Linked DNA regions of Homo sapiens: region 1 is reported to be linked to region 2. Evidence: microRNA targets listed by miRTarBase, many of them from high-throughput screens and not tested one by one. Region 2 holds a microRNA gene; the other region holds the end of a gene's coding sequence.

Region 1 (4,063 bases), not on the chromosome of region 2:
AGTCTACTTAGAGAAGATCAAGTGACCTCAAAGACTTTACTATTTTCATATTTTAAGACACATGATTTATCCTATTTTAGTAACCTGGTTCATACGTTAAACAAAGGATAATGTGAACAGCAGAGAGGATTTGTTGGCAGAAAATCTATGTTCAATCTAGAACTATCTAGATCACAGACATTTCTATTCCTTTTGCAAGTTGGCACACAGTAAATGCCCGAATGAATAAATAAATTGCATTAACAAGGATGTCTTCATGTGTAAATCAGAGATAATACCACCTACCACACAGAATGTAAGGGAAAAGAGAACAAATAAGTACCAAAGTGCTTTATACGATTCTGAGTTATTTTAAAAATCTGTGTTAATAGGTTTGTTATTTTACACAAAATATCAAATTTCAAATGAACTCCAGTGCTGGATTTCGATGTAGTATTTTATTTATAGCTATGTTTTCCTTTTAACAAAGATACCATTAACACATTTGTTCAGTGTTCATTTTAAAGGGTAAAAATGTTGTCTTATAGCTCATTCAATAAAACACCATAATTCAGGTCAAATGCCAATGTCCTTGTACCTCCTTTGCTAAGTCAATATAAGGAGGAATCTGTTTTGTTTCAAGACAAAAGCATTTGATTATAAAAAGGTCTACAGTTTATAGTTCTTACTGAATTCCAATTCAACAGCATTTACCAAAGGACTTTACAGCTATTTCTTTTGTAGCATTTATCATATTGTATTATAAATATTACTTGTTTCTTTCAGGAGATAGAGCAACTTGAGGGCAGAAAATAATGTAATATTCCTTTTTATATCAAGTACCTAGCCTTTGGCTGGTTCTTTGTAGAGGTTGGTGCCCAGTAGACAGAGAACAAATGAACAGAAGATCTGTGTTGTGACCGGGAGAGGAAAAAAAATCCATTATAATTTCAGTTAGTTTATGGTCAGAGTGATTAAAAAAAAAACTATCAAACTGAAAGCAGCATTTTAATAGACTCCTTTTAGGTTTTTCTCTGTGAATAAAGCTAGTTTTAAGGTAGACAAATGTATGTTAATAAAACAATTTGATGCAAAGAGTTTGGAGCATGTTGTCAGGACAGCACAATGAAAATCACGGAGAAAACACAGAAAAGTTTACTCTAAAATTATTGAGTAGTAGTTTAATACTGTCAGGTAATAATGAATGAAGATGAAGTAACCTTGTCCAAAATTTGTTGTATTTTACAATATTTTATTTTTATGATTTTTAAAATTTATTAAGGTTTCAAGGTATTACTGTAGATGGGAACTGGGCTACACAAATAAGTGTTTTGTATCTGGGGTGAAGGGTGAACCACATGACAGTGGTTATACTTGGAAAAAATAGTTTTTATTAAAATGATTATTTGTCCAACTTATTTTGAGTTATAAAATAGATATGGTCAGTGAATGTTTGATGATGATTATATGTTGGCAAAAAGTTATTTGAAACCATACTAGAAAAAAATAAATATGTAATGACAATTCCAAGGAACTACATCTAATACTTAAGATAAAGATAAAATAACTAGCAAGATTTATAACATTCACAAAAAGATTTTCATAAATATCTGTTTTAAATACCTCATGGGCATTCTAAGAGACTTTTCCTACCTTTGCATTTCCTTGGGAGGCATTCCTTAGTAAAGAGAGTGCTAATACTGTAAAAGAATTGTTACTAGGAGCCAAGCAAATGCAATCCTAAATAGCAAAAAAATGAAATTTTTAAAAAAATCATGAAGTAGCTATTACTTTACAGGAAAGATTACAGCAATTTATGACTTGGTTTATGCTACCTTTGTATGTTAGTATCACAAGCTTGAATTAAATAAGTTGAGTTAAATAACTTGATTCTCTATTAACAAATTTTTACATGATTTCAACAAAGCTGTTTGAAGCAAAGGGTTCCTATTAAACATTAGTGAAATAAAGCAAACCCTTTAATTGTTCAAGTGGCAATGATAAGAATAGTTCTGAACTTTTATTTTATAAAATAATTAGCATTTGCATACCACTATCACAGACATACACATATTTCTATAGGGAACATTTAATTTCCCTTATGCACTATGGTTGCTTTATTTTTGTTGTTGCTGTTTTAGAGACAGGAGTCTCACTCCATTGCCCAGGCTGGAGTGCAGTCGTGCAATCACAGCTCACTATAGCCTCAACCTCCTAGGTTCAATTGATCTTCCCACCTTAGCCTCCCAAGTAGCTGGGAACACAGGCATGCTAGTTGCTCTATTTCACTCACTAAAAAAGGAGATAAAAAGCAAGCTGATGTCTAAGATAAACTGATGCCATTTTAAGTTATCAATACAAAGTGTGAAGATATAAGTAGTTTCCTGTGATTAAATTTTACTGTGGGTTTATGAAGAGGAAAAAAAAAGCCCACTATATTGATACACTATTTCTGAGGTATAGTATGCATTTGGAAAGTAGTTAAAAAGAAAACAAAAAACCTTAGGAGTTTTGGTTATCAACAAATATGGAAGCACCAATTTTGAAGTTGGAAATGTAAGATTTTTATTATGAGAAAAAGAGTAGTATACATTTATCTAAGCTAGGTCCTGAACTCTGAATTATTTTACAACACTTACTTAGGTGAATATTATCAGCTACTAGATTTTACTAGTTTAAAGTACTTGAGGCCTTACCTAGTTTGGATGACTCAATGGTACTTCACATTCAAATATTTTCAAAATATTTTACAACCTATTTTAAAATCATTCTTATGAGAGAGGCCATGATAAGCTCACTTTTACTGGTAAAACAAAATATAGAAAGTTTTAATTTAAAAACTTGCCCTGTACCTTTTTTTCTATAAATTTTTCAAATCACAGTGCCAATTATAATTTAATTAATACAAAACCCAGCAGTTTTAAGGTCATGTTGAATGTTGGTTAACTCTTATTTAGCATCTTATTTAGAATGCAATATGCCAACTTTGGTACAGGAAAAAATTCTTCTCTAAGTTAAACATATTACTTATCATAAGCTGTTCTTTTAACAGTAGTTTAAAAAGACAAAAACAAAAAACACCTTTCAAACACACAATTTATTAGCAAAATTTTTAAGTCCGTAATTCTAATGTAAGGCACTTCCACTCATTTTCAAATAAAATTTCCATATGAAGTTTTTTATTCTTTTGTAATCAAGTCTTCACAAATTCAGTAATGTTACTTCAAGTAAAACTTTATTAAATAATGAATTTTGGCATAAGTGCCATAATTATCTTTACTTCTGAAAAGAATGAAGGATAGGCATCAAGCTCTGTGCAAGCTAAATTTAAATGAAGGTACTCTTGGTCTGTTTTAGATTTAGACTTAGCAGTGTTTTATCTTGTTGATCTTGTTCAAGGATCTTAAAATCTTCCAAAGGAAGACTGCTTAAGGCAGTTGGTAACATGTGTTCTGATGTACCTTTAGGTAATACACTATTTGCTTCTAAATTCTTTACCAAACACGTGGCTTTGATCCATCTTCGAGTTGCTCTGCGTTCCTTTTGTAGGCAAGTTTTCATTTTTCTTCTTAAGCTTGCTATTTCTTTTTCCAGTTTAATGATCCTCTTTTTTGCCTCCATAGGATTCCTAAAGGCATAGCTGTGTTCAAGTAGTACTTGCTGACTACTAATGTTTGATTTTAAATTAGATGGTCCAGCTGGAGAACAACTGTTGTTTTTCTTCAAAAGATTCCTTGACTTGAGTTTCTGAGCCGAATAAAATTAGAGGGTTGAACATAAATTATGAAATATCACAAATAAGCACATAGTGTCCAGTTTTGGATAACAGTATTTAAACTGCTCTTTTAAAAGTCAATTTTAAAACTTTAATAGGAAACAGCAGCAGCCATCTCATGTAATCCAAGATTAAGTTTTTTAACTGGTTGAATTAACTCTAGTCACCTATTTCTTTTTGTCCCATATCCAGAGAGATTCAAACACTGATTTGGAAATAGACAATGGACGTCCAAGGTTTCTTCCAAATTATTGACTATGACTCTATAGAGACTTTAAAGATCCTTTGCAATTTACTAAGGTCAATTTA
Region 2 (4,067 bases):
TACTCTGAAAAGGACCACTTGGAGAGTCTAAATAAGTAGACAGATACCTAAGGAGCCCCAGTTGTTCCTATCCCCAGCTTCTTGAGTCTTCCCGGCCCAGGTGCCAGAGCTTTCAAGATGACCCCAGCCTCATCCACCACGTGACTACAGCCTCATGAGAGACCTCAACCCAGCTCAGCCAACCTGCTTCCTAATTTCCGATGCCTTGAAACCATAAAAGACAACAACTGCTTGTTCTCGTTTCAAGCCTTTACAATTTAGGGTGATTTGCTATGCAACATTAAATAACAAGACCACAGCCTGAGTAAATGAAGCTGCTGAAGGGAGCCCAAGAGAAACTCGGAATTACCTCCAAATTTCTCTGAAGAAAGGATTCGAGGTAAGGAAAAGATCTGCAGCTGCTTGTAAGGCAGATCATCTGTCTTCACCATGCTGAAAGAGCAAGGTGGACTCCTGCTTGAAGAGCACTGTAACTTACTCATGCAGTAATGTGGAATCAGGAAAGGAAAGTGATAGTAACAATTTGCTTACAATTGCCAGGGCAAGGGCAGAGACTTGGAGAACACAGTGGGAAATGAATGGTAAATATGTCATTCTCTACTGGAGGCAGGAGTGGGAAGTAATTAGCTGGGGAGGAGTGGGAGCTGGCTAAGGTCAGAAACAGTGACCTTACAGCATTATTATCTTTCAAATTCAAATACACTTCTATACCTCGCTTTGGGTTGCTGGGACAGAAACTGCAAACGACATTTCTATTTTTCCAGCCAGATACCTTTCAGGCTCTTTAGGGGGTGGTAGAGGGAGCCTGCAAGGCTGGAGGAAGAAGAGAGAATTTGCTGCCTCCTGTCTACTTCTTATTCCTGTGATGTCACCTGAGCAAAGCTTCTTCAAATGGGCAGAGGCACGGCCTTCTCACAGCAGCAGCTGAATCTGCTTTTCAATTTTGTCCCATTTATAAAACACGCTCCTTTGTACCCACTCAGAGACATTAACCCCAGCCAGCCAGTACCAACTCCTCAGAAAATTTGAGTCTCCAAGACTCCTACTCTACGTTTCCAAGTTTAATAATTCCAATCTCTTCCCTCTTTTCCCTCAGTTGAAAGGGTGGTAGCTGATGACTGCAGTTGCCACTTACCTCTGTGATACTTTAGAGATCTTTTTTCCCTTCTCAGTTACCTAGCTAATGGCTTTTTACCTAGTTGCAATTCTTCATATTAAAATTTTCCTTTTCCTTTACCTGGTGTGGCTTCTGTCTGCTGAATGGATCCTGACTAATAAAAGGTATTTCTTCCAAAGAAAAATCTATGATGGTAACTGAGGTTGGGGGTAACTGAAGGTTCAAATAGCAGGGAGATCAAGTTCAAATACCAAATGCAAAGACCACAGACAGAATTTGAAAGAGTGACCACAAAGTTAGGAGGTTGAAGGTGGGCAGAGACATAAGCAAAATAAGAGTAGGACTGGAACAAGATAGAAGGCTTAGGGTGATTGCTATGGAGGTGGAAATTATCAACCCATCCACCTACCCGCTACCCTCCCCCAGTCAGTAGGATGGGTAAAGCTGATTTAAAAACCTCAGGCAAGGCCAGGCGCGGTGGCTCACGCCTGTAATCCCAGCACTTTGGGAGGCCAAGGTGGGCAGATCGTGAGGTCAGGAGGTTGAGACCATCCTGGCTAACATGGTAAAACTCTGTCTCTACTAAAAATACAAAAAATTAGCCAGGCATGGTGGCATGCGCCTGTAGTCCCAGCTACTCGGGAGGCTGAGGCAGGAGAATCACTTGAACCTGGGAGGTGGAGGTTGCAGTGAGCCGAGATCGTGCCACCGCACTCAAGCCTGGGCGACAAAGCGAGATTCTGCCTCAAAAAAAAAAAAAAAAAAAAATCTCAGGCAAAAGTGGACATTACTTGTCTAGATTTGGGGTTGATGAGGGTTTTTTATTGGAGGTGGGAGTCGTTTTGTTTTTTTGAGACAAGGTCTCCCTTTGTCACCAGGTTGGAGTGCAGTGGTACGATCTCCGCTCACTCCAGCCTCACCCTCCTGGGCTTAGGTGATCCTTCCACCTCAGCCTCCCGGGTAACTGGGATGACAGTCACATGCCACCATGCTTGGCTAATTTTTAAAATGTTTCGTACAGATGGGGTCTTGCTATGTTGCCGAGACTTGCCTTGAACTTGTGAGCTGAAGCGATCAAGTTCTAAGAGCAGCTTATAATATGATTTTTAACGCATGTTGTCTATGATCATAGAGGGAGATAGACATGGAAAGAAAGAGGGCCTTTTCTGCCTTGTGCCTTTTTCCATGTCTATTCTAAGGACCAGGATTGCCTTGAGACCAACACTGTGAGAGCCCTGACTCAGTATCCATAGATATTCTATCTGCACATTGCAGAGCACTAAGCCAGTCCGCCTTCTCAGCTTCAGACTAGTCAGTTTCATGGACTTTCAGCATCTCTGTGTAGATGTTTCCAGGCACCTCAAACCCACCATGCTCAAGGATGGATCTAATCTCTTTTTTCATTCAGATTTCCCCCCCGCCGCCACCATGGAAAGCAGGTAGGAAACACTGGATTTCTTCAATGTAGCCCCCCAAAACAGAAACCTGGTTGCCTTTTCTTTTTTCTTTTTTTTTGAGATGGAGTCTCACTCTGTCGCTCAGGCTGGAGTGCAGTGGTGTGATCTCGGCTCACTGCAACCTCTGCCTCCTAGGTTCAAGCGATTCTCCTGCCTCAGCCTCCTGAGTAGCTGGGATTGCAGGCGCCCACCACCACACCCGGCTAATTTTTGTATTTTTAGTAGAGACAGGGTTTCACCATGTTGGCCAGGCTGGTCTTGAACTCCTGACCTCAAGTGATCCGCCCGCCTCGGCCTCCCAAAGTGCTGGGATTACAGGCATGAGCCACCACGCCCGGCCCTGGTGACCTCTTAGCATCTTCCCTTTTTGCTTCTTCTGGCTTCAAACTATTTGAAATACTCTGTGTGACACATCAGTGAACAAAATGAAGTCTTGTTGCCTAGTTGGGAAAAATGGAAAATCAGCAAAAGGTAAATCTGGGAAAGACTTTTTATTTAAATTATTTCTCTTTGAAGGGACTCATGAAAAATTGAGAAAATAGGGAGCGGTACTGGTCATGAGGAATGTGGGGAGGGAATCCTGAAATCTCCAGCTCTGATTTGCAGAGAAGGTTTGAGAATAAAGAGCTCCAAGAGCTGTTTGACTCATGTTGGCCGATCCTGAAATCCAGAAGTCCCCTGGCAGGAAACCCTCTGGAGACGACAGACTAAACCATCCTGCCATTGTCAGCCTCACAAGGGGCTCAGCAACTCAGCAAAAGGAAGTTGTTTTTTTGTATTGCACTTTTTTTTTGTCTTAAAGAGATATCCTTCTTAATAGTTACATTAATATCTTGAATAAAGATGGAGAGTGTATGTCAACTTGGAAGAGACAGCAACCATACTGGAAGTCAGAATCAGAATCTCAAAACATCTTAACATAAGGCTAAAGAAAGGGACCAACAACAGAAGAGAAATTAATAGGAGCAAAGGTAAAATTTTGTACTGAGGTTCAAAAAGCCACTTGTAGAAGTGCAGAATGGGGAGATGTGGCTGAACAGGACCCCAAACTTTTCAAGCTTGTTCTTGATGTTCTCTCAGTCAGGGTATGCTAACTGCTATAATGACAGTGCCCAAGTCCCAGTGATTTCAAGATATCCTGTGGAGAAAAAAGTATGGAAGGGGCCAGGCACAGTGACTTATTCCTGAAATCTCGGGACTTTGGGAGGCCAAGATGGACAGATCGCTTGAGCCCAGGAGTTCAAGACTAGCCTGGGGAACATAGCGAGAACTTGCCTGTACTAAAAATAAAAATAAAAATAAATCAGCCGGTCATGGTGGCGTGTACCTGTAGGCCTAGCTGCTCGGGAGGCTGAGGTGGGAGGATCACCAGAACGCAGGAGGTCAAGGCTGCAGTGCGCTATTGTCGTGACACTGCACTCCAGCCTGGGTGTCAAAGTGAGATTCTGTCTCAAAAAAAGTGTGGAAGGGATAACAGTGCTGGCTCAATTGAT

The links. The annotated mature microRNA hsa-miR-4430 reads AGGCUGGAGUGAGCGGAG and lies in region 2 at 2,017-2,034, opposite strand. An mRNA with a match to its seed (bases 2 to 7 or 8) in the 3' UTR can be bound and repressed. Matches are read on the target gene's strand: a 7mer-m8 pairs with bases 2 to 8, a 7mer-A1 pairs with bases 2 to 7 and ends in A, and an 8mer does both.
Region 1: the mRNA of THAP2 is a reported target of hsa-miR-4430. Seed matches in the 3' UTR shown: 7mer-m8 at 2,147-2,153 and 7mer-A1 at 831-837.

What each region holds. Positions count from the first base shown.
Region 1 is chr12:71,676,352-71,680,414 of GRCh38, reverse strand. THAP2 (THAP domain containing 2) reads right to left here. Exons shown (of 3, transcript NM_031435.4): 3 at 1-3,726. The coding sequence ends at 3,307. The region is part of intron 1 of LOC124902965 (a long non-coding RNA gene); the gene reads left to right. Among named protein-coding and RNA genes, the nearest start is that of TMEM19, 7.7 kb to the left of the region's middle.
Region 2 is chr2:33,416,486-33,420,552 of GRCh38, reverse strand. MIR4430 (microRNA 4430) reads right to left here and starts at 2,037; the gene lies at 1,989-2,037.